Linked DNA regions of Homo sapiens. The protein of the gene in region 2 purifies or fractionates together with the protein of the main gene of each other region. This does not show direct contact. Each region holds a gene or a part of one and is shown on either strand. Other genes may lie near its edges. The genes, in order: ARPC1A, CORO2B, CUEDC1, PRKG1, PPP1R9A, RANBP10 and MYO6.

Region 1 (3,500 bases), on a different chromosome or scaffold from region 2:
GCAATCTTACAAATTTCTACAGGAAACTTTTCTTCCAAGTTAAGCTTCAACCTCAGTAATTGTTTACATTTTTATTCGTTGAGAATTAGTGTCAAGTATAGGTAAATTGGACTTTATTATGGTACAAGGTATTGTCTTTGAACAAGCTGTATGTTTAGGGCAGTTTCTCAGCTGTAGAACAATTATTTCATATTTCATAGGAGTACTTTAAAACAACTTCTCAGAAGTTTATAATTCAGCCATATGAACTAATTATTTTGCTTGCCATCTTTTCCTTAATTAAAAAAATTACATTATAAAGGCCAGGCACGGTAGCTCACGCCTGCAATCCCAGCACTTTGCGAGGCCAAGGCAGGCGGATCACGAAGTCAAGAGTTCGAAACCATCCTGGCCAACATGGAGAAACCCCATCTCTACTAAAAATACAAAATATTAGCCAGGTGTGGTGGTGCATGCCTATAATCCCAGCTACTTGGGAGTCTGAGGCAGGAGAATCGCTTGAACCAGGGAGGTAGAGGTTGCAATGAGCCGAGACCATGCCACTGCACTCCAGCCTGGGCAACAGAGCAAGACTCTGTCTCAAAAAATATGTATACATTATGAAACAATTCGAAATACTGTCTTTTTCTCCTTTTTTAGAGACTTTGTGGGGGATTTTGGTTTTTTATTTTATTTATTTATTTATTTTTTGAGACAGGGTTTCTCTCTGTCACCCAGTCTGGAGTACAGTGGTACAAACACGGCTCACTGCAGTCTCCAACTCCTGGGATCCAGCAGTCTTGCCACTTCAGCCTCCCAAGTAGTTGGGACTACAGGTTTGCACCACCACACCTGGCTAATTTTTTGATTACTTGTGGAGACAGGTTCTCACTTTTCTTGCCCAGGCTGATCTCAAATTCCTGTACTCAAGCAATCCTTCTGCTTTGGTCTTCCAAAGTGCTGGGAGTATAGTTGCAAGCCTCTGCACCTGGCTGTCTTTTTCAGAATGAACTTCTTCAGACAGGATACTAAGAAAGTGATTCTGTAGCCAGGCGTGGTGGCTCATGCCTGTAATCCTAGCACTTTGGGAGGCTAAGGCAGGCAGATCACCTGAGACCAGGAGTTTGAGACCAGCCTGGCCAACATGGTGAAAGCTAATCTCCTCTAAAATTACAAAAATTAGCCGGGCGTGGTGGCGTGAGCCTATAATCCCAGCTATCGGGAGGCTGAGGCACAAGAATTGCTTGAACACAGGAGGCAGAGGTTGCAGTGAGCTGACATTGCGCCACTGCACTCCAGCCTGGATGACAGAGTAAGACTCTGTCTCAAAAAAATAAAAAATAAATAAATAAAAGAAAGTGATTCTTGCTTGACCCCGGGAGGTGGAGGTTGCGGTGAGCTGAGATCACGCCATTGCACTCCAGCCTGGACAACAAGAGCGAAACTCCATCTCAAAAAAAAAAAAAAAAGAAAGAAAGTGATTCTATAGAAAGGTAATTTAGCATTGAAGGAAAGGCATTGGCTCAATATTTAGTCTCCCAACTGTTGAGCAACCAGACGTGATTGGTTTTTAAACAGCAGTTTGGGGGCAGAAATGAATTAGTTAAGCCAAAATACTGACTGGTCCTAGACATAAATCATCTTTTTTGGATGGTGCTAGCGAATTAGAGGCTAATCCCCAACATGAGGTTCTTCTAATTTCTTGGTTGTGATTTTTCAGTGAAAGAAATTAAAAAGAATTTGCAGATTCGTGGAGACTTGGGAAGGATATTAAGCTGTCTTACAACCCCAAATTCACCAAAAATTCAGCAAATCACTGAATATTCATAATAAAAATTGAAGTATTTTCAAACTTCAGTTTTTATCTCAGAGGTTAACGTCCTATGTAATCCGAAATCTCACGAAAACATAACTGAGTTAATCAATATCTATGCTTACTAATGAGGACTGCTGAAAACCAGCTGTTGTGCTGAGAACATCAGGGCCAGGAGTGGAGAAGGCCTGTTCATGGTTCTTTTCCTTTCTGTCCTTTAGCAATGCACCTTGTCAGCTGGGCGTAGTGGCTCATGCCTGTAATCCCAGCACTTTGGGAGGCTGAGGCCGGTAGATCACTTGAGCCCCAGAGTTTGAGACCAGCCTGGGCAACATGGAGAAATCTCATCTCTACAAAAAATACAAAAATTAGCCAGTCTCAGATCATAACCTGGTATCAAAAAACCTTGTCTCTGGCAGAAGGCCTGGTGACCGACAGAAGAACGTTGAATGCTCTGTTACTTTTCTATAGAATCTTTTTTTATAGAAACCTATCTGAAAAAGTTTATTCTGAAAAAAATAATATTCTGAATTGTTTTATAATTTTTTTTTAAATTAAGGAAAAGTGTGGCCTACTTAGGTATTTTCACCTGACATACATTTGTAGGTCATTTGGGGATGCTGGTTGAGTGGATAAACTGAAACAGTTTTCCCCTCTCATAGGTGGGTGAGCAAGCACATTAAAAAGCCGATTCGCTCCACAGTCCTCAGCTTGGATTGGCATCCCAACAACGTTTTGCTGGCAGCAGGATCATGTGACTTCAAATGCAGGTGGGAACCAGTGAGAACTGATAAACTTGAGCCGTGCATTCTTCATCCTTCAACAAATAATTTTAGGTTCTCTTTCTTTGTTTTTTGTTTTGTTGTGGTTGTTGTTGTTTTGAGACAGGGTCTCACTCTCACCCAGGCTGGAGTGCAGTGGCACCATCATAGCTCACTGCAGCCTCCAATTCCTGGGCTCAAGCGATCCTCCAGCCTCAGCCTCCAGAGTAGTTGGGACTACAGGTATATGCCACCACACCTGGCTAATTTTTTTAAAATTGTCTTTATTCTTTGTAGAGACGGGGTCTTGCTACATTGCCCAGGTTGGTCTTGAACTCCTGGCCTCAAGTGATCCTCCCTCCTTGGCCTCCTGAAGTGCTGGGATTACAGGCATGAGCCAGTGTGCCTGGCCTGTAAGTTTCCTTTTCTTTGCAAGGTACTGCGCTAGGCACTGTGAGGGACTCAAAAATGAGGCCTGGTGCTGTGGCTCACACCTGTAATCCCAGCACTTTGGGAGGCTGAGGTGGGCGGATCACCTGAGGTTGGAAGTTCAAGACCAACTTGGCCAACATGGTGAAACCCCGTGTCTACTAAAAATACAAAAGAGGCCGGGCGCAGTAGCTCACGCCCGTAATCCCAGCACTTTGGGAGGCTGAGGTGGGCGGATCACAAGGTCAGGAGATCGAGACCATCCTGGCTAACACAGTGAAACCCCGTCTCTACTAAAAAAATACAAAAAATTAGCCGGGCGTGGTGGCGGGTGCCTGTAGTCCCAGCTACTCGGGAGGCTGAGGCAGGAGAATGGTGTGAACTCGGGAGGCGGAGCTTGCAGTGAGCCGAGATCACACCACTGCACTCCAGCCTGGGCGACAGAGCGAGACTCTGTCTCAAAATAAATAAATAAATAAAAGTTAGCCTGGTGTGGTCACAAATGCCTGTAATCCCAG
Region 2 (3,500 bases):
AGAGTAGGTGAACGGCTCAAGGTCACAGGTTGAATGAATGGGTGGGGAGCAGGGATTTGTACCTGGGCTGTCTGACTCCAGAGAACACTTTCATCTCACTTCCAGGCCTTTGGTCCTGGGGCATGATCGTACTCTGCTTCCACTCCCCACCAACCCCCCACCTACAACACAGTGGGCTATTGTCTGTTGTGTTTGTGGCCCTGCCACTGAGGATGTGCAGGACAAATGCTGGTTGCCTTGAGGGTGATGCCCATGGTTGTGTCCTGCTTAGATTTGCCTGTGGTCTTTACTGGAGCTAGGAGTCATGTAAATGATTCGGGGAAGGGTGCTGGGGGAGGAGGGTGTCCTATACATGGTGTTTGACATCAGATTGGGCTGCTTGGGTAGGGCATTCAGCCGAGGGCAGAACAAAGTATGACAGAGGCAGAGCCGCCTTCTCCATTTCCATGAGGCTAGCTTGGTTCAGAGAACGCAGGTCCCTGGTCCAGGCCTGCAGCCCTTACGAAGCAGCCTTTTCTCGAGTTAGCCCCTGATGATTTGGGGTTCCACTGGCTAGGAATGCTGGCTTTGAAGTCAAACACATGGCAGTCTGTCATTTACTTGCTGTGTATTCTTGGGCAAGTTGCCTCACCTCTCTGAACATCTGTTTCCTCATCCATTCATTGGGATTGATAATAGTAACAATCCTTTACTATTAAGGATTGTTATTAAGATAAAGTGAGCCGATCCATGTGAAGCACTTACCATATGCCTGACATGTAGTGTTAGCTGTTATTCTCAGGAAGACAGAAAATTAATGAGTGTCCTGGGGCTTATGAAATGAGCAGTACAGGGAACTCTGGGAATAGCAGGGGGCCTGACCTAGTCAGAGGGATGAGGAAGTGACTTTAAGTTGAGTCATGAAGGATGAGTAGGAGGTAGCAGGTGAAAGGAGGGGAGCTGAGGAGGGAGCAACAGGCCGGGGATGAATGGGCAAACGTCAGGAGTCAAAAGCCACGGACCTTGATCACTTCCTGCATGCTGGACATTGATGAGAGCATGGTACAAGTATCCACTCATTTAATCCTCAGAGTGACATCATGGCATAGGTTACTGTTATCATCCCTGCTTTACAGATAAGGACACAGGCACAGAGAAGCTAAGTCACCTGTAAAAGGTGGCCCAGTGAGGCAGGATGAGGCTGGTCCAGACCCGGACCTCCGGATTCTGGCCTCTTTCCTTCCCGCTGCCTGCTGCTTGGTGATAGGGAGGGTGGCCTGACCCTGGCTGCTTCTAAAACTGACCCAGGCAAGGGGGTGTGGAAGTGCCAAGTTCAGTTGCCTACCCCGATGCCTCACGGAGCCTCCTTGGGCTGTGTAAAGTGGCCAGAGGCCCTCCTGGCTCTCAGGCAGGAGGGAGAAGTCATTTATTTTTCCAAAAGGAAACTTTGCTCTGGCAGGAAATTTTCCACCTTATATTTTTAGTGGGCTCAATTATGACCATTTTTGTTCTTTAAATCTTTCTTATTATCTATATTGGGCCTTGGTCTTTAAAGTCAAACTATAGGGAGATATGTATACACACACACACACACACACACACACACACACACACACACACACACAATTTTTTTCTAAAGTGTTAAAAGTCCACACCAATAGTCCCAGCTACTCAGGAGGCTGAGGCAGGAGATCATCCTGGGCAACGTAGTGAGACCCCATCTCTAAAACAAACAAACAAAAAAAACCCCCTAAGTGTCTGCAGTTTGGTGTCTGCTCTGTCCGAGCTCAGAGAAGGTGGATGTTTTACATGGTGTTCATGCCACAGGCTTAAACTTACTGTCCCCTGTATGAGATAAGTGTCAACACCCCTGGAGGCTCTGGCTGCCCAGAGCGGTGGTGTGTGGAGGCTCACCCTGGGTAGGTGCTCATGCTAATTGCTGGGAAGCCTCCATGATCAGTATTTAACTCCGGAGATGTCTGAGGTCATCTGGGCCAGCACTCTGCCTGTACGGCACTCTACACTTTTTAGGAATATCACAATGATTCCTAATTTTAATTTAGATTCGTTTAAGAAATACCAATTTAATAGTAGTCAGTTCTCAGCCTTTCACCAGGTGCTAGGCCCCTGCTTTCAAGGGACCAACAGACAATAACAATAACAATAATAATAGAAGCGGCTAACCCTTCCGGAGCACTTAGTTTATGCCAAGCATATACAATATGTTTTATATGTATTAATTCATTTAAGCTTCATGACAGCCTATGAAGTCTGTGCTATTATTATCCCCCTTTCTATGGTTGCAGAAATGGAGGTCCAGGGAAGGAAGGGAGGTAACTTTTACAGTGTTCCCACAGCCAGTCAGGGACTCAGCCTGCCTCGCAGGCCTTCTGTCTTGCCACTTTGTCAGGCTGGTGGGAATGACCCGGAAATATGTGGTCCAGAGCATGGGACCTGGAGGCAGAAGACCCAGGCCTCGCTCTTGCCTCTGCTCCTTACTGTGTGACCTTGGGCTAGTCCCTGGATGTCTCTGAGCGTCTGTGAAAATGAAGTTAGTAGTCTATCTCTGTAGGGTGCTCTAATATTTAAGTAACATGGAAAGATGTAAATAAGGTGCTTTGTAGATGTCATGGCAGGAAATGGTTTATTGTGATGTCTAATCTGTGCCCACTCCTTTCCTCTTCCTCACCAGTATTTCAAGGCCCTCAGATTTAGGCAGTTCCTTCCAATAGCTAGCCCACTTCTCCCCTGCTGTAGTCCTTATTTCAGAATTGATTCATACTCTGTGGGTGGAAGAGAAAAGTTCATCTCTTCCAAACAGCCTCTATCTGTTTTTACTCTGTCAGGCTAGTTTGGTGCAGATGAAAAGTTGCTTTTCTCTCTTCCTGTTCTGTCTATTTTGGCTGTTTTAATATGCTTGGGACAAATAATCTGGCTATAAAAATGTGGTGTCCTGCTTTCATTTGAAAAGTGAGCCAAATAAAGCATCCAAACCTTGATCTGTATTATCCCGGCTCTCTGTAGATCAGAGCTCCCTGTGGAAGGCGAGGGAAGGTGGGTCCCAGAGCACAGTCCTACCTGGGTCCCTGGGCAGAAAGACCAGGTTCCCACTGTCAAATGACCTTGATCTTTGCTCCAGATACCTCCCGATGCCCCCAGCGCTCAGACCTGCTTTTCCTTTAGGTTTATGGAAAGGAATAGCCTCTACTAGCTTGAGGCATTTGCAGCAAATCATTTAAACACCTTGAGTTTGATTTCAGAACTAACAGTTTTATAATCTGGAATCTGGTAGAATCCAGGACGTGGAACGGCTGATGGAAAGAAAGGTGTTGGTGGAAGGGGACAAAGGGATTTAATTCCTGAGGATTTTTATTTAACTCCTGAAAAATTGCTGGTTATGCCTGCCCTGCTGACCTCCAGGTGAAAGACCAGCTTGCAAAAATGCATGGGGAAATTTGGGATTCCGAGAAATTTGGAATTCTGGGAAAGGGGATTTCTGCATACCTGAGTGGCCAACTGAT
Region 3 (3,500 bases), on a different chromosome or scaffold from region 2:
CCTCGGCCCTGACTCCATCTCTTTCGGTTTCAGGTGGGACCATCCGTGAAACCGGTGCCAGGATGCACCGGGGGTGTGGATGACCGGCCGCCCAGCCCCAGCACGGCCCGGTCCCGCATGCCACCGCCCCGCGAGGACCGCTCTCCAAGGGCTGCCTGGGGCCCCGCGCCCGTACTCTCCTAACCCGGAGCTCTTGGCAGCCCATTGCTGCCTGGCTACCCGGGGAGGAGGAGGCGCAGGAGTGAGCTGCCCGAGACCGCAGGGCAAGTAAGCGGCTGACGGCGGAAAGACCCTGGGGAAGGGGCTTTGCGGCCGGCTAGAAACATTTTCCCCAAGCGGCTCCGCAAAATGACCAGCCTGTTCCGCCGGAGCAGCAGCGGCAGCGGCGGGGGTGGCACCGCCGGGGCACGCGGGGGCGGGGGAGGCACGGCCGCCCCCCAGGAGCTCAACAACAGCCGGCCTGCCCGCCAGGTGCGCCGCCTGGAGTTCAACCAGGCCATGGACGACTTCAAGACCATGTTCCCCAACATGGATTACGACATCATCGAATGCGTGCTGCGCGCCAACAGCGGCGCTGTGGACGCCACCATCGACCAGCTGCTGCAGATGAACCTGGAGGGCGGTGGCAGCAGCGGCGGCGTCTATGAGGACAGCTCCGACTCGGAGGACAGCATCCCCCCGGAGGTAGGGGCGCAGCCCGGGTAATTCCAACCACCACTGGAGGACAGCATCCCCCCGGAGGTAGGGGCACGGCCCGGGTAATTCCAACCACCACTGGAACCTCTAAGAGGACCTGGGTTACTCCGCTATCTGGGTTCTAATTAGCAAGCAGCCTTACTTCCCCTAGGGAAAAGTACCATCCGTCAGTCACCTTATTTTATGGGCAGAAATCATGCAGTCATTCAACAAACACTGAGCGCCCACTCAGTGGTGTGCGAGACGTGGCACTAGACCCTGAGTCAGGAGGCATCAGAATCAAGGTGCTTGTTAAAAATGCAGGTGCCTGGGCCCCACCCCAACATACTGAACTCCACATCAGGCGTAGAGTCCGCTAGTGGCCAAGTCAGACCAAATTTCTGCCCTCCTGGAGCTCACAGTCCAGTGTGGACTAGAAGCGCGAGTCGGGTACTGACGGCCAGAGTGGTAAGTGCTCGATGGAGACGTGGAAGCAGCAGAAAGGAGTGACTTCCCAGAGGAAGCGATGGCTAAGCCGAAACCCTAAGCTGAGACCCAAAGGAAGAGTGAAGCCGGGGGAAGGGTGTGCAGGCAAAGGGAACAGCTTGTGCAGAGTCTGGGAGGTGAAATAGTGCCTCACTGGCTAGGGAACTGGCAGCAGGACCATCTGTCAGGGTCCTAGAGTGAGAGGAGATCAATGAGGTTGACAAAGCCCTGACGCTGAGAAAAAGAGTGCGGCTGGGGCCGGGCGAGGTGGCTCATGCCTGTAATCCCAGCACTTTGGGAGGCCGAGGCAGGTGGATCATGAGTTCAGGAGTTCGAGACCAGCCTGGCCAATATGGTGAAACCCCATCTCTACTAAAAATACAAAAATTAGCCAGGCGTGGTGGTGCGCACCTGTAGTCCCAGCTACTCGGGAGGCTGAGGCAGGAGAATCGCCTGAACCCGGGAGGCAGAGGTTGCAGTGAGCCGAGATCATGCCACTGCACTCCAGCCTGGGTGACAGAACAAGGCTCCGTCTCAAAAAAAAAAAAAAAAAAAAAAAGAAAAGAAAAAGAGTGCGGCTGTATCCTGGGAGCATAGCCACGGAAAGGGAGTGAGGAATCAGACTTGCCAGTTAAATCCCTCTGACTGTGGCCTGATGGAAACAGTAGTGAGCCATAGCCAAGCAGTCTCTCCAGGGAAGTGGCTGGAGAGAGGGGACCTGCGTACTGCATCAGTACCCACCTGCTGGAGGTTGTGAGTCCTTTCCAGTCCCACCCGAGTTCAGTGGACATCTGGCCACCCAGTATCAGCAGAGCCTGAGGTGCTTGGTGCAGAAGGATGAGGCACACAGAGCCTGTTAATCAGAGGGGTGTTGTCCACAGGGCCATCTGGGACATGCAGCCATGGACAAGACCAGGACCCAGCAGGATTTAACTCCACTCTTTATTGAGTCCCGACCCGTGCCAGGCATCATCCTAAGTGCTTTAGATGTATCATATCTTCTTTTTTTGTTTGTTTTTTTGTTTTTTTGAGACAGAGTCTTGCTCTGTCGCCCAGGCTGGAGTGCAATGGCGCGATCTTGGTTCACTGCAACCTCCACCTCCCAGGTTCAAGCGATTCTCCTGCCTCAGCCTCTCGAGTAGCTGGGACTACATGCATGTGCCATCATGACCGGCTAATTTTGTAGTTTTAGTAGAGATGGGGTTTCACCATGTTGGCCAGGCTGGTCTCGAACTCCTGACCTCAGGTGATCTGCCCGCCTCGGCCTCCCAAAGTATTGGGATTACAGGCATGAGCCACTGCACCTGGCCCGATGTGTCATCTCTTCTAATCCTCACAAACTTTGTGCTGTGGCATTATTATTACCCTTGTTCATCAGCCATCCTGCAGGGCAAAGTCTCCTTGCTTTTCCTCCTTAGTGGGTGCTGCTGAGACTTCCCCTAGAGGTGGAAAAGCTCTGTTGGCCAAGACATCTGGCTCATCCCTGTGTCATCTGCAGCACCCAGGACAATCCACGCACATAGCAAGCACTCAGGGAGTGTTTGTTGAATGAGTACGTGTTGCTGCTGTCTTTGTACAGTTTTCTATTGTCTCTCTCCTTGGGAGACCACTCCTTTGATCTGCTTGGAGTAGGTGGTGGAAGGAATATTGGAAAATATGGATCCTCTTTGTAGAAAGAAGGAGAGAGAGAGAGTGAGAGTATGCGTATGTATGTGTGTGTCTGCAGATACAGTTGACCATTGAACAATGCAGGGGTTAGGGGCAGTGAATCCTCCCCTTGCAGTCAAAAATCCACTTTTTAATATAACTTTTGATTTTCCCAGAAATTGACTGCTAATAGCCTATCGTTGACCTCAAGCCTTAACTCAAGCCTTAACATAAACAGTCGACTAACATATATTTTGTGTGTTGTATGTATCATATACTGTATTCCTACAATAAAGTAAGCTAGAGACAAGAAAATGTTAAGAAAATCATAAGCAAGACAAAATATATTTTCTACTCATTAAGTGGAAGTAGATCATCGTAAAGGGCTTCATCCTCATCTTCTCACATTGAGTAGGCTGAGGAGGAGGGACAGGAGGGGTTGGTTTTGCTGTCTCAGGGGTGGTGGAGGTGGAAGAAAATCTACCTATAAGTGGACCCACGCAGTTCAAACTCTTGTTATTTGAGAGTCAACTGTATATGCTTTAAGTGTGAACTGGAAGGAAAGCTCTCTGCAAGCTCTGACCCTTTCTGCAGTCTGATTTGCCCTGACAGTCTGGCAGGTAGGGTAGTATTTTCTCCTTTGTCCATGGCCCCCACAGTCCTATAGACCTCTGCAAGGCTTCACCACCCCC
Region 4 (3,500 bases), on a different chromosome or scaffold from region 2:
AAATTGGAAAAGAAGTTTTTTTTCTACTCTTTTGACAGAAGAACTATAAAATGTATTCAAACACACTCTATGACATGAAATAATAAAACTAGAACTAAGTACATTTTCCCTCTTCTAATCCACACGTGAACACAATTAATTTGGAATCAAGTTAGTTAAAATTCAGCCAATTCAGAGCATGAGATTGGATGATAGCTGTGAGCCCTGGATGTTAAACGCAGCTCTACCAAGGATTTACTGTGTTTTGACTTGGGAGGTGGCTGAGGTTCATTTAAGTGCGCCATGTACCTGTTAATTTGGGGATAATAATGCACTCTTACAAGTCTATGGGCTTTTTCTTACTCTCTTCTCTCTTTCTTTAAGGTCCAGTTGAAAAGTGAAGAATCCAAAACGTTTGCAATGAAGATTCTCAAGAAACGTCACATTGTGGACACAAGACAGCAGGAGCACATCCGCTCAGAGAAGCAGATCATGCAGGGGGCTCATTCCGATTTCATAGTGAGGTAAAGGCTCCATGCCAGGGACAGACGTACCCAACTCCAAGTGACAAATCCACCACAAAACCCTCTGCCACTTGTGCTCACTGTTAACACATTTCGTATGCACAAAGAAACTTCTTTTTAATCTAATCTTAAGAAAGTTTTGTTTGATTTCTAAAAATAAAGTTCTGACTCTATTCTTTCTTTTAAAGAGAATTAGTGTCTGAAAACAATGTGTTTTCCCAAAGGAGGTACCAGAGTTTCTAACATTCCATTTTTATCTTTTTTTAAATCCCCAAACTCTACATAGACCTTTGATGCTTAAAAGACAAAATATCCAAAATCAAACTATTTAACCTTTAATTATCTGAATATTTTTTGAAGATCTAAAAAAATGAAATGACAGCTGACCATTCCACCTCAGTACTAATAAATGGATAATGGGGAGATTTTTATATGTGGAAGCAGCTTTTTGTAGTGAATTTTCCAGTGGCATTTACTGAAAACAAGATGTAACATGAATTTGAGCGAATAGCATATGAAATTTATACATGTCTGAATCTGTAAAGTTTAATCCACTTTATTCCCATTTTCACTGCATGTTGATGACCACTAAATGTTGCCCCAAGGGTCTATGCTCAAAACATTACCCAAATTGGAATGGAAAGAATCCCAAGAAACCCTCTTTGTCCATAATCATTATGATTAATCCATTTCAAGGGAGAGATTAGCGCCTTAGTTTCTTCTATTAAAATCCTATTCATGAGCCATTGGCTTCTTTTCCCCATGTGTGGGCTTAGATCTCTCTCATTCTGACAAAATTTTGAGCTTGGCAAATCAAAACTATAATCTGGGCCCCCCAAAATTGCACACTTGTAAAAGACAGTAATGTTTATAATCTTTGTTTTCTTGTTTGCAATTTACAGACTGTACAGAACATTTAAGGACAGCAAATATTTGTATATGTTGATGGAAGCTTGTCTAGGTGGAGAGCTCTGGACCATTCTCAGGGATAGGTAGGAGATTTAAGAAATTTCTATGATATCTCTAAAAACAGTTGCCCATGTTGGTCTATAAGAAGAGTTAATATGATAAAGTATAATAATCATATTTATAATTTACACATGCTTATATTTCAATATTTAAAGTAAGCACAGGGCATAACCCACTATACACATATGATTTACTGTACATATAACAAAACTCACTTTGTAACTAACAATACAGGCTTAGTCGATCATAAAAATGGTACATAGCAAAATATATACATGGCCTTAGTTTTGCATGAATGTTAGAATTAGCTCTGTAGCTGGAATTCAATTCATTGCTTTAGCAGAAAGAGAATTATAGTTATTTTATAATTATAATTTGAATTAACTATCAGTTTAATTGCTCTACTCTTTTTCCAGATAGGCAGTTTGCCTTTTGTGACATTGTGAATTTTTTCCAAAGTAATTTTTCCCTCTACCTTTACATGGCTCTTTGGTTTCAAAATTAACAAAAGTTTCCAGCCATCTCTTTATCCCTTGGCTAGTCTTAGGAAAAAGAAAAGAATCCACTTATAAGCAATATTTCATGTAAATTATCTGATTTAGATTTACCTTCTTACCCTTCCAGGGCAAGGAAAGTTTGTCTACATGGTGCTTGTTTGTTCTAATCATGCAAATTCATTGTCTTAATTTTCCATCTCATATTTAGATAACTAGCAAATTATCTAATTATCTTCTAATATAATTTATCCTATAAAATGTCTCAGGAGATCATTATCTACCCTGTGTTTTTTTAAAAACACACTTTTATTTTCCTATGAATAATCTTTTGATTATTTTCCATGAATGATTTATTGATCATACAAAAGTCATCTTTGTTCTTTTGAACACTCACATTTAGACATCTGTATTTTTCTTATTTGTTTGAGTCCTGCCTCCCAGACTCTCCTTCACAGGGTAGCATCCTTCTGAAACTTAGCTATAGGTAGCCCTGATGTATATAACCATGTAATGTTTTTATATTTGTTACTTTGCAGATACCCCAGAATAAAACAAGTGGTTCCTTATGAACTGTTGATTTAAATTCTCATTCCTAATGGTGTTCTTATGGTACCTTCATATCTTTGTACAACAGGCCCTTTCGTGTTATTCCCATGGCCTTTCTTATATATGCCAAATGGATTTCTTGTTACCACATTGTATCCTATTGCATCGGTATTTTATTTCAATTCTTAAATTTAAGGTTAAAAAAGCATAAAAGGGAATGTAATCATGTTGGCATTAGGCGATAAGGTTAACATCTATACTAAGCTATTATATCATAGTGTATATATTATGTATTATTGCTAGTTAATATGTACATAGAGATTATATACCAGGCATTGTGATAGAGGCTGGGGATCCAGTAATAAACAAAACAGATGGGGTCTCTCTCCTCAGAATGTATAGTTTGTGGCACAAAGTTAATATTTTAATCTGTGAGTTAACATTTGGCATATCTAATGTGTTTCTACTGTATTATATTTGACTTGATATTTCAATTCACTGATTTATTTGAAGTCTTCTACTTTTTTTTCTAATTAGAATAGAAGAAGATTTACAGGTGGAATTAAACATGAAAGCAATAATAAGCCACAAAGGGAGAGCCCAGCTATCCCTCTTATAGCTTATTATTTTTTTATTTTTTCATAAGTTATTGGGGTACAGGTCATATTTGGTTACGAGTAAGTTCTTTAGTGGTGATTTGTGAGATTTTGGTGTACCCATCACGCAAGCAGTATGTACTGCACCATATTTGTAGTCTTCTATCCCTCACCCCCCTCCGACTCTTCCCCCCAAATCCCCAAAGCCCATTGCATCATTCGTATGCCTTTGTATCCTCATAGCTTAGCTCCCACATATCAGTGAGAACATGTGATGTTTGGTTTTCCATTCTTGAATTACTTCATTTAGAATAATAGTCTCCAATTTCATCCAGTTCCCTGCAAATGCTGTTAATTCATTCCTTTTTATGGCTGTGTAGTATTCCATC
Region 5 (3,500 bases), on a different chromosome or scaffold from region 2:
AATGGAGTGTGCAGCAGGTTTCTCACTGGTTAATGAGCCTAAATCTGGAGCAGTATGTATCTGAATTCAGTGCCCAAAACATCACTGGAGAACAGCTCCTGCAGTTGGATGGAAATAAACTTAAGGTAAAGAATTATATGTCTGTCTTAGGTTACCAGGTATAATTTGTATTACTCATATCACCTAAAATGTTTTCATTAGGTAAGAGCATTCTGCATATCTGAGAGGTAATTCTCATCAATATTCAGCAGAAAGGATGTTGAATTCTTTCTGAGTAGTAAATGAAGTCTCAGAAAGTCCATCAGGGGTTCCAAATCAAATGGTAGGCTGCTGATTAGGAGAGTGAGGGACCCACTCCATTGCTTCCACCTGGCAACACATGGTCCATATATTAACTCTCCTTACATCTGATGTAGTATGAGTTTTAATAATGGCCACTGTGGACTTTTTCATCACATTAGAATTAAGACCCAGATCCACGAGTCTTCTTTTCCTTGTTCATTTCTCCTTCACCTCCACTCTTCCTTACACACCACTCCCAAACTGGGATGATGTTCTCCCCAGAAGTTTTTTCCCCAAATATGTACACACATCTTCCCTCCCCTCCATGGCACTTTCATTTCCACTTGTCCAGTCCATCTCTCTTAGAGACCAAGGTGGCATCCATCCCTTTGGGAAAGGGAAAAAGGTGCTTACAGCCAACTCCATGTACCCCCAAGCCCCACCCCCGCCTCAGCCCCCTGCTGGGCTGACGGGCAGACGAGTATCTCTTGACAATCTTGAAAAGGTTAGAGATCAATCAATAGCTTGTGAATATGAAGGCCTCATTGACAAGGCTGTCCCTGTTGGGGAGATAGATAGATGCATCCTGCTGTTGATTCTGAAGGTCACGAAACATTTAAAGTACATAAGCAACTCCCCTTATTCTGAATTCTAAGTTCATCGAGCAACCTCCTCATTATAATCAACTTCCTTTATAGGTCTGCCTACAGGGAAAGAATGGCTAGTCATGCTGACACGAGCATTCTGGCCCCAAAGACATTTTTGGTTCTCATTGTAATGAAAACATTGGCAGAAAGGAAGCCATTTCAATTCTTCTTGCCCTTCTTGGAGCCCTCTGTGACAGCAGGTGCTCACTCCTATGCTTTGAAAATATTGATGAGTTTAGCAATACCTTTACCCGTAAATGCCTACAGCCCAAAGGTTGGAGAAGTAGAATTGTGCCCTTTTTCCATTCATTCACCCATTAATTACTCATTTGGAAAGCATTTAATTAATGAGCTTTAGGGTATACTTTGCAAGGGACTTCAAAGAACAAAAGAAAAAATAAAGGGTAGCCCCCAGTGTGTTGGTTTTTAGCAAATGTAACTAGTTCTTCCTCTGTTCTTACCTCTTCAATGTTTGAATTAGTTTACGAACTTGGATATATGGTATGTTAACACCATCAGAGGGCTCATTGGTTTTCAAATTCAGTTTGTGTGTGTGTTTCTTTCTTAGGCTCTTGGAATGACAGCATCCCAGGACCGAGCAGTGGTCAAAAAGAAACTCAAGGAAATGAAGATGTCTCTAGAGAAGGCTCGGAAGGCCCAAGAGAAAATGGAAAAACAAAGAGAAAAGCTAAGGAGAAAGGAGCAAGAGCAAATGCAGAGGAAGTCCAAAAAGACAGAAAAGATGACGTCAACTACAGCCGAGGGTGCTGGTGAGCAGTAACACATACCCTCTTACAGATGATGGAGATGCTCCAAGAGAAGTCCCCACCTCTTCCTGCCCTGCTCTCCTCCAGAGGATGAAAAAGAAACTAAATGATAAGGGTAATGCGGCTCTAGGCCGGCTGAGGAACTGTGTGTTGAATAACTGCATTTTCTGCAATAGAATGCACTCTTAATTTTAACTACTAAAATAATCCCAAGCCACCTTTGGTTCATTAACAAACCAGAGATTTCATTTAAGTAGCTGTGTTTTGCTCTTCTCTAACTTACCAACATCTTGTGTTGTGTTGGGTGTGTTTTGTCACTTGGAGAACTAGTGTGACCCCACCCAAGAGCATGACACACCCTGGTGTTGTTAATGGAGCGCCGTGAATTTTCAGTGTGGGATCCTGAAATGGCAATTGCACATGTCTGCATGGCAGAGAGCACCCTGCCATGAGATCTGAGACCAGTACTTAACTTCTAGGACTGCAACACCTACTCCAATGTGTGGGAAAGATTTGCTCTTAATTCTCAGTCTGGACAGTGAGACCACCCCGCTGTGGAAACATGGGTGCTCTGCTCTGTAGTTACCTACTAAGGGAAAAGGCAAGCAAGTCATTCTGCTTGCTAGGCATCAAAAAGAAAGAAAATAAATTATAGCTATTTGTTAACCACTGAAAAAAGCAAAAGCCTTAAGAATGTGGATGTGGGTATTACCTTGGGGTTCTGAGGGTAATATTTATCCTCTAGATACGGCTGAACAAGAAAGAAAAAAATCAGACATTAATGCAGCCATGGGATATTGGGATCTGTTGACCTTGCTACTGCTGTGTGTTCAGCATTTCAGCAACACTGGCAAACACAACACAGTTCCTCTTCCCCCTACCTAACCCAAGAAATTGAACAGGAAATTGATTTTTAAGGAAACCACCATTTTCAGGTTTCCTCTCCTGGGGAACATTCTGGCTGGTCTTCAGCCTGCCTATGTCACAATCAGGAACTCATCACATATTTTCTACTCAAGATTTCCCAGGTGGGCTCAGTTAGTATTTTAACAAATGTACTTTTAAGAAAAATAGAAATACCAGTTAGAGGAAACTGTCAGTTAACATTTTAGAGAGATTTTGAATGGTTTTTCCGAACCATTCCTTTCCATACTTCAAAGATTCTCAATTTTACAGAAAAAGTTTGTTTAAGGCAGTGCATAGGTATACTTTAGTAGTGGAGGAACTTATACTAATTTTAAGCCAGCATTAAGGATTTCCATGTTTCACCAAACTAAGTCAAGTGCAGGAGACTGGGGCAGAAGAAGGAGAAAATAAACTCGTTTTGAGAAATTTCATGTGATGAGGGTTTTTTGTTTTTTATGCTCATGTATCTGGTTCTCTTTGCTGCGTTGACTCTAAAAATGAGGTTATCCACTTTCCAAAGGACAAGTTTCAGAATAAGACTTGAGGCCACATGAATTCTTGGACAGTATTTTACTTCTTTTACTTTATGGGAATCTCTGCTCTGTTCCCAGCATCTCGTATCTTCCACTAGAAGTATTCCATATTTAGAGCCTCGGCAAGGCTTTTGAGTGTAACAGATTAAGGGAACTCCCTTGTAGCCCCATCTTGTATTTTAATAACAGTGTGATTTTTTTTTATCTGAAAATCTGAATTCAGAAATTATCTAAACTGGACATTTTTAATTCTGTTTTACCCCCAAGGCCTGTTTTCTTTTCATTGCCAGAGTATTGTCGGTTATGCGTCAGCTCTTTTGTCATTAGGTACAGACCCTTCATTCAATCCTCAGAAACGTTGACAT
Region 6 (3,500 bases), on a different chromosome or scaffold from region 2:
AACACAGCAGTGAGCGAGGGCTACAGGCCTCTCCCACAGCCACACACCTGGGATGCTGCCAGCCTCAGGGTAGGGTCCGGCTCAGAGTGCCTCGCCAGCTTGAAATGCTCACAGGAGAGGAGGCTGGAGAAAGAACCTGACTGCCCAGCCCAACAGATCCTGGTTTCTGCCAAGTGTCAGAGAGTCCTCAAGAATATGGGGAAGATGGAGGGGAGACTCTCAGCCCAAAGGCAGGAGGGTAAATGTGGAGGTCTGCTCCTGCGGGGCACATGGTGCCAGGGACCTGGGGGCAGGGTAGGGCCCCAGCTGGGGCAACATGATCTGGGGATGGGCACCCAGGCAGCTTGGCGGCCTGAGTGGCTCCTCTTCAGACAGACTCCTCTCCTTCCAGGCCTCACAGGGGAATGGCAATGGAATCACACTGGTTTCTGACCAGGGCTCTGGCTGGTGGTCTTCAGGGGCTGCAGCATGCCCCCTGCTGGGAGAGGAGGCCATCCTCCTCATGCTGGCACCTCTGATGTTGACACCTCTCACGCCATCAGCATCTTGCTGCTGCCTTTTCGCTCTTGCCGTGGGGCCTGGTGCATCTCGCTGGGAGCAACTTCAGAGTCTGAGGCTCTCATTCATAGATCCCAAGTCTGGGATCCCTTTCCGTCTGTCTGGCTGAGCACAGCTTCTCTGGGAGACAGACACGTGCACATACAGAAGAGACAGCAGGCTTGGAGAGGGGTAGGCAGGCACTCACAGACACGCATATCCACACCCACTTGCCCTCATTCTCCTTTTCTCCTTCTAGCTCCTCACTGGGCTCCTTTTCCTCTTTTCCAACACCCCTCCTTCCGTGAAAGAGCCTCCAGACACACAGCATCCAGGCCAGCATCAACACTGGGAGAGCTCTGGCCAAGGGAGGACTTTAGGTTGTCTGCAAAGGGCAGGACCAGTGGTGGGGAGCAGAGGGTAGTGCCCCCACAGCAGCCATTGAGCACTGGCTTTGCCCTATCTGACCACTTCAGTCCCCTCTCTGGCTAGGAATAAGCAGAACTACTAAGGCAGGCAAACAGCCTTCCTGGAAGACCATGAACAGGAGGTTGAGAGGAATCCAGGATTCAGGGGGAAGGAAACAAGCAGGGAGGAAATGGAGGAATGGAACCAGCCATGCCAGGGCCTGGCCTGCGCCCAGCCTTCAGAATGTGCATTAGGGAGGCTGCCCTGAGACGTCTCCATCCTGCCAACTGTCCATCTGGGCAGTGCCATCTTGAAGGTGGGACAGGAACATGGCCTCGAGCTGCAAGCTGGTCATGAGGACCAGAGCTGAATGGACTCCTGACAGGTTAACCAGGGTTGACATGAGCCAGAGAGCAGAGTTAGGGACAGGTGAGGAAGGGAAAGGGGAAAGTAGAATAAACCTTACTTTGTCTGTTCTTTATGGACGCCTGTTCTTCCTGAATCGGGGTTTCAGTCATTCGAGCAAAAGCCGTGGCTGTGGCACAATACCCATGATGCACGAGGTAAGATGAAACCATGCTAGAAGAAAGGAAGAGCTTCAGGTGACACTCAAGAACTGCACTTCTCACTGACTACCCAATGGACTCAGGACAGATTACCTCCCCCAGAGGTCTCCCTAAACACGTCCTGGAGGTGTAACCTCCACAGAATGAGAATAAAGGGGCTGAAACAAAATGAAAACTTCCCCCATGGTGCCCCACGGTCATGAAGTCAGGCTTCGGAGGGGCTGGTCACCACATCTGTGCCCACAGTTCAGAGGAGTGGCTGCAGTTTATCTGAGACATGCTGCCCACAAGTAAGCGAGTATGATAACAGAAGTACACACACAGGCACACTCCTCACAGGTGGCTGCCTCTTTGGGAAATGCAGCAAGCCTAAGAGGCCAATAGTCTCACTGATAGCTTCCCGAAACTGCAGCTAGCCAGGTAATCTGGCAGATTTCCAGACAGGATGCATGCCACATGCACACCTTCTACAGACACAGGAGCCCCTCTGCAGGCTGTGCCATGTACCTGAGAGAAGCATTTCAGCCCTCCAGGTGAACCTGCCCTCAGCAGTTCCAGCTCTAGTGAGTGAGTGATGGGAAGCTAACTCACAACCCAGAGTTACACCATGATACACCACAAATCAGGGGCCCAAGAAGCCAAGCAATCAGGCTGATTTTGCCAGGCAGAGATAGGCAGCAGCAGGGCCAATGGGAACACAGTCATTGGGAAATGGTCTGGAGAAGTCTGACTCCCTGTAGCCATTTAACCCCAGCAGAAGCTGGCTGAACAGTGGCACATGTGTGTACACATATAAAGCAGAGGCTGAACCCTCAAATCTGATGTGTACAGGAGTGAATACCTTGGTGTGTACATGTGTCTGATGTCATTACTGTAACTCTAAACACAAATGTCTGAAGGGTTGTCAGGTGGAAGGCACAGAAGTTTGGGTGTGTGTTCCCTCAAGCTTTAAGGGGTAAATGAGATAATACACATAAAGTACCTGGCAGGAAGAAGTCCATAAATAAGACTTCTTATTATGAAATGATATATTACATAATATTATAGTATAAATAATAATTATCAGCTGGGCGTGATGGCTCATGACTGTCATCCCAGAACTTTGGGAGGACAAGGCGGGAGGATCACTTGAGGCCAGGAGTTCAAGACCAGCCTGGCCAACATTGCAAGATCTCATCTCTACTTTAAAAATATGGCCAGGCGTGGTGGCTCATGCCTGTAATCCCAGCACTTTGGGAGGCTGAGGCGGGCGGATCACAAGGTCAGGAGATCAAGACCATCCTGGCTAATGCGGTGGAATGCCATCTCTACTAAAAAAATACAAAAAAAAATTACGCCCGGGCGTAGTGGCGGGCACCTGTAGTCCCAGCTACTCAGGAGGCTGAGGCAGGAGAATGGCTTGAACCCAGGAGGCGGAGCTTGCAGTGAGCCGAGATTGCGCCACTGCACTACAGCCTGGGCGACAAAGCGAGACTCCATCTCAAAAAAAAAAAAAAAAAAAAAAAATTATTGGCTGCGTGTGGTGGCTCATGCCTGTAATCTCAACACTTTGGGAGGCCGAGGCAGGAAAATCACTTGAGCCCAGAAGTTTGAGACCAACCTGGGCAACATGGCGAAACCCTGTCCCCACAAAAAATACAAAAAATTAGCCAGGTGTGGTGGTGCATGCCTACAGTCCCAGCTACTCAGGAGACTGAGGTAGAAGAATTGCTTGAGCTCAGGAGGTCCATGCTGCAGTGAGCCATGACTGTGTCACTGCACTCCGCCTGGGCAATAGAGTAAACTCCTGACTCAGAAAAAAGTAAAGTAAGTATAATTATTATTATTACACCATATTATTATTATAAACACAAGGGTAAATATGAAAAAGTCTTTATCTACAAGAGGGTTACCTACACAAGTAAAAGAGAAGGAATTACCTGACCTTCCACTAGAGGAAGCCAGCCAAAAGGCTTGTGACAAATTTGTCTCTGTGATAACATAGCCATT
Region 7 (3,500 bases), on a different chromosome or scaffold from region 2:
AATAAATGAAGACATAAAGGAACCAACACAGACGCACACACAGTTCTTTAGTGAGTCTTTACAAAGACAGTTGTAACTATCGGATCACTACCAATGCACAAAGTAATAAAAGTTATTTTCAAAATTCCCCCAGAACATTTTTCTCCTTCCTTTTTTTAACTAATTGTTCTTTAAAAATTCTCCAACTAGAAAAGCTAATTACCAATTTCAGTCTAGCAATCTATTTAAAATGTTAAAGTAGTTCCATAATGATGCATCATGCTCATCTTCTATCTTCCATTAAAAAATAACCTGTAACAATTTAATAATCACCATTTTAGTGACCCTAATTTTTCAGAACTTCCTGAACCACCTGACTTGAAGCCATAATGTGAGGTTAAATACATAAGCAATAGGGGGAAAGTGGAGGACTTACTACTTTGGGACTACACAGAGATGATGCTTCTAAGTAGCCACATTGACCTTGAACAAGTTACTTAATTTTAAGTAATGTATTTATTTATTTAGAGACGGGATCTTGCTCTGTCACCCAGACTGGAGTGCAGTGGTGCAATCACAGCTCACTGCAGCCTTGACCTCTTGGGCTCAGGAGATCCTCCAACCTCAGCCTCCTACACAGCTAGCACTATAGGCGTGCACCACCACACCCAGCTAATTTTTGTATAATATTTTTTGTGAAAGGGTTTCACCATGTTGCCCAGGCTGTTCTCAAACTCCTGGGCTAAAGTGATCCTCCCAACCTCAGCCTCCCAAAGTGCTGGGATTACCGGCATGAGCCACCACATGCAGCCAGTATTTTTAATTTTTTGAGTCTCCATTTCCTTACCTGTAGAAAAGGAATAAATTTACTAAATCTACTTCATCAAGTTGTTTTAAGGACCAAATGCATACAAAAATATTTTAAAGCAATAAAATGCCATCCAAATATAAGTTATTAGCTTTTGACGTATATGTCTTTGGATTTCAAATGGATGGTTTCTATTTATTTTTTCATATCTCTGCAACTCTTCCTATTTCCTGGATCCAAAGATATGCCAGCACAGGGAGGAATCAGTTCACACTTGTCATATCTAAAACACAGTGGGCCCTCAGTAAATATCTGTTGAAAAAGATGTTCATCCACATAGATCAGAAATCAAAAAATTCTGCCACAGAAAATATATTACCTTGTAAAGGTTAGTCAGCGGCTTACTTTTTTTTTTTTTTTTTTTTTTTTTTTGAGACGGAGTCTCACTCAATCGTCCAGGCTGGACTGCAGTGGCCCAATCTCAGTGCACTGCAACTTCCACCTGCCAGGTTCAAGTGATTCTCATGCCTTGGCCTCCCAAGTAGCTGGGATTACAGGCACCCACCACCACACCCAGCTAATTTTTGTATTTTTAGTAGAGATGGGGTTTCACCACATTGCCCAGGCTGGTCTGAACTCCTGACCTCAGGTGATCCACCCACCTTGGCCTCCCAAAATGCTGTGATTACAGGTGTGAGCCACCACGCCCCAGCCAGGTTATTTTCAAATGAAATAACAAATGACCTAACATACTCAAAAGATGACTGTGTTTTTGTCAAGAGTTTCCTTTGTGCACATTACTCAGCATCATATTTACCCCATGTGAATATACACTGAAGGAATGTGCTTTGGTGTTTTGGTTTCACTTGAGACATGCCTTCTGTATAAAAAATTATTTCCTCTCTCTTTAGCACCAGCAAGATTTCTAAAGATGCCAGATTTCTTCTTTAGGTTTTACTTTTTATGCTTCAGTACTCACAGGGAAAACTTTTGGTGGACTTATGGTCATTTCTCAAACCATTATGTCATTCTTACACTAATCAATAAGAAAAATAAGCTAATTTTTGAAAACAGTAACTAGAAAGACGTTGCAAAATATTTAAAGATTCTAGTCCACTCAAATTTGTCAAATAAAATCAGAACCATTTTAAATGAAAAGATCCTGGTTCCTCTGAACATTATATAATGCCGGCAAGGCACGGTAGCTCATGCCTGTAATCCCAGTACTTTGGGAGCCCGAGGCAGCACACTATCTGAGCTCAGGAGTTCAAGACCAGCCTGGGCAACATGGCAAAACCCCTCTCCACCAGAAACACAAAAAAGTTAGCCAGGCATGGTGACATACACCTGTGGTCCCAGCTACTCCGGAGACTGAGGTGGGAGTGTCACTTGAGCCTGGGAGATGGAGGTTGCAGTAAGCCGAGATCATGCCACTGCATGTGGCATGAATGAGACTCTGTCTCCAAAAAACATATATATATATATATATATATATACACACACACACACATATATAGATCATAGATACATGCATATAGATATAATGCCTCCAAAAGAGAACTTAAGCTTATTTAACTCTACTTCTTGATGTGTGTGTCACAGATCTATTACCAATTTATATTAGTAATATTACTAATTTATATTAGGTGGTGGTTTTGTATTTACAGTTGAATATGAATATCCTTGAGATGCACAATTCCTAATAGTTCAAAGCAAATAATGAAAAAAATCCGTAATGGTAGCCACCCAACTCAGCCTTCCTACCTTGCTTCTGCTCATTTACCCAACTACATCCTACTGCTGAAATGCATGATTCCTAGTTTGTTACCAGAAAAAATGGGCTTATTTGCTCACTGTTGTCATTTATGTCTATTGCGGCTCAAGGGATATTCCACAGACCATAGAAAAGATTTGTACTAATAGTTTCTAAGTGACAATTTAATCATAATCTAAAAACGAGTCCCCCCTCTCAAGATTAGAGAATTAATTATGTAATATTTAAAGGATAGCTACTGCATAAATAATTATCTTTTTCATTAGAGGAAAATTTTAAAGTTCTATCCCAACCAGGAACATTACAATCTAATTCTAGTTCTCACAAACCTATCAAAGTTAAACACATACATATGTTTAACAGCATACATACATGCACAATACATATAATGTCCTAGAACTATACGAGAAATGAGAAAGCAGCAGCATCAGTGTTCAAGGCTGTCAACTTGAGAATGAAGACACAAACACAGGATTCTAAATTTGTTCCAGAACTACATTCACGGCCTATCATATCTACTCCTGGATGCTTTTGTCAAACCTTGAATTACATTCTTTGACATAATACCAGTTTTGCCGGTTTAAACAGTCCACCAAGTGAACTGAAACCAAGGCAAACTGTTCTGGTGGAAAAAACAGGGGCTTCGTGGTCAAATGACTCAGGTGTGAATCCAGACTTTGCCCTTCTGGAGCAAGCATTTAATTCTTTGAGACTAGACTCCCTCATCTGTAAAAGGACAAGACCATTAGCCTAGAAAATTATTTTGTAGATCAAGCCCCTCAATCTGTGATCTGTCCAATTATGGAAGATGCCTAATAAATGTGCAACAATCTTATACTAGTAAAGGGCCAGTTCACAAATTATTATGAAATATCTCATTATGGGTATCATAATTAAACTCTATGAAACTGCAATCCCAGCACTTTGGGAGGCCAAGGC

The links.
Region 1: the proteins of CORO2B (region 2) and ARPC1A purify together in Homo sapiens (co-immunoprecipitation; one large-scale study listed by IntAct). This does not show direct contact.
Region 3: the proteins of CORO2B (region 2) and CUEDC1 purify together in Homo sapiens (co-immunoprecipitation; one large-scale study listed by IntAct). This does not show direct contact.
Region 4: the proteins of CORO2B (region 2) and PRKG1 purify together in Homo sapiens (affinity purification with mass spectrometry; 2 studies listed by BioGRID and IntAct, with this or other methods). This does not show direct contact.
Region 5: the proteins of CORO2B (region 2) and PPP1R9A purify together in Homo sapiens (co-immunoprecipitation; one large-scale study listed by IntAct). This does not show direct contact.
Region 6: the proteins of CORO2B (region 2) and RANBP10 purify together in Homo sapiens (co-immunoprecipitation; one large-scale study listed by IntAct). This does not show direct contact.
Region 7: the proteins of CORO2B (region 2) and MYO6 purify together in Homo sapiens (co-immunoprecipitation; one large-scale study listed by IntAct). This does not show direct contact.

What each region holds. Positions count from the first base shown.
Region 1 is NC_000007.14:99,346,398-99,349,897, forward strand, and holds part of ARPC1A (actin-related protein 2/3 complex subunit 1A), read left to right. Parts: intron 1-2,454; coding exon 2,455-2,562; intron 2,563-3,500. UniProt on the Homo sapiens protein: Probably functions as a component of the Arp2/3 complex which is involved in regulation of actin polymerization and together with an activating nucleation-promoting factor (NPF) mediates the formation of branched actin networks.
Region 2 is NC_000015.10:68,585,493-68,588,992, forward strand, and holds part of CORO2B (coronin-2B), read left to right. Parts: intron 1-3,500. UniProt on the Homo sapiens protein: May play a role in the reorganization of neuronal actin structure.
Region 3 is NC_000017.11:57,882,413-57,885,912, reverse strand, and holds part of CUEDC1 (CUE domain-containing protein 1), read left to right. Parts: intron 1-33; 5' UTR 34-348; coding exon 349-684; exon of another isoform or gene 685-741; intron 742-3,500.
Region 4 is NC_000010.11:52,270,987-52,274,486, forward strand, and holds part of PRKG1 (cGMP-dependent protein kinase 1), read left to right. Parts: intron 1-363; coding exon 364-503; intron 504-1,405; coding exon 1,406-1,495; intron 1,496-3,500. UniProt on the Homo sapiens protein: Serine/threonine protein kinase that acts as a key mediator of the nitric oxide (NO)/cGMP signaling pathway. GMP binding activates PRKG1, which phosphorylates serines and threonines on many cellular proteins.
Region 5 is NC_000007.14:95,288,594-95,292,093, forward strand, and holds part of PPP1R9A (neurabin-1), read left to right. Parts: coding exon 1-125; intron 126-1,497; coding exon 1,498-1,710; 3' UTR 1,711-3,500. UniProt on the Homo sapiens protein: Binds to actin filaments (F-actin) and shows cross-linking activity. Binds along the sides of the F-actin. May be involved in neurite formation. Inhibits protein phosphatase 1-alpha activity.
Region 6 is NC_000016.10:67,730,061-67,733,560, forward strand, and holds part of RANBP10 (ran-binding protein 10), read right to left. Parts: intron 1,525-3,500; coding exon 1,412-1,524; intron 1-1,411. UniProt on the Homo sapiens protein: May act as an adapter protein to couple membrane receptors to intracellular signaling pathways.
Region 7 is NC_000006.12:75,752,239-75,755,738, reverse strand, and holds part of MYO6 (unconventional myosin-VI), read right to left. Parts: intron 1-3,500. UniProt on the Homo sapiens protein: Myosins are actin-based motor molecules with ATPase activity. Unconventional myosins serve in intracellular movements. Myosin 6 is a reverse-direction motor protein that moves towards the minus-end of actin filaments.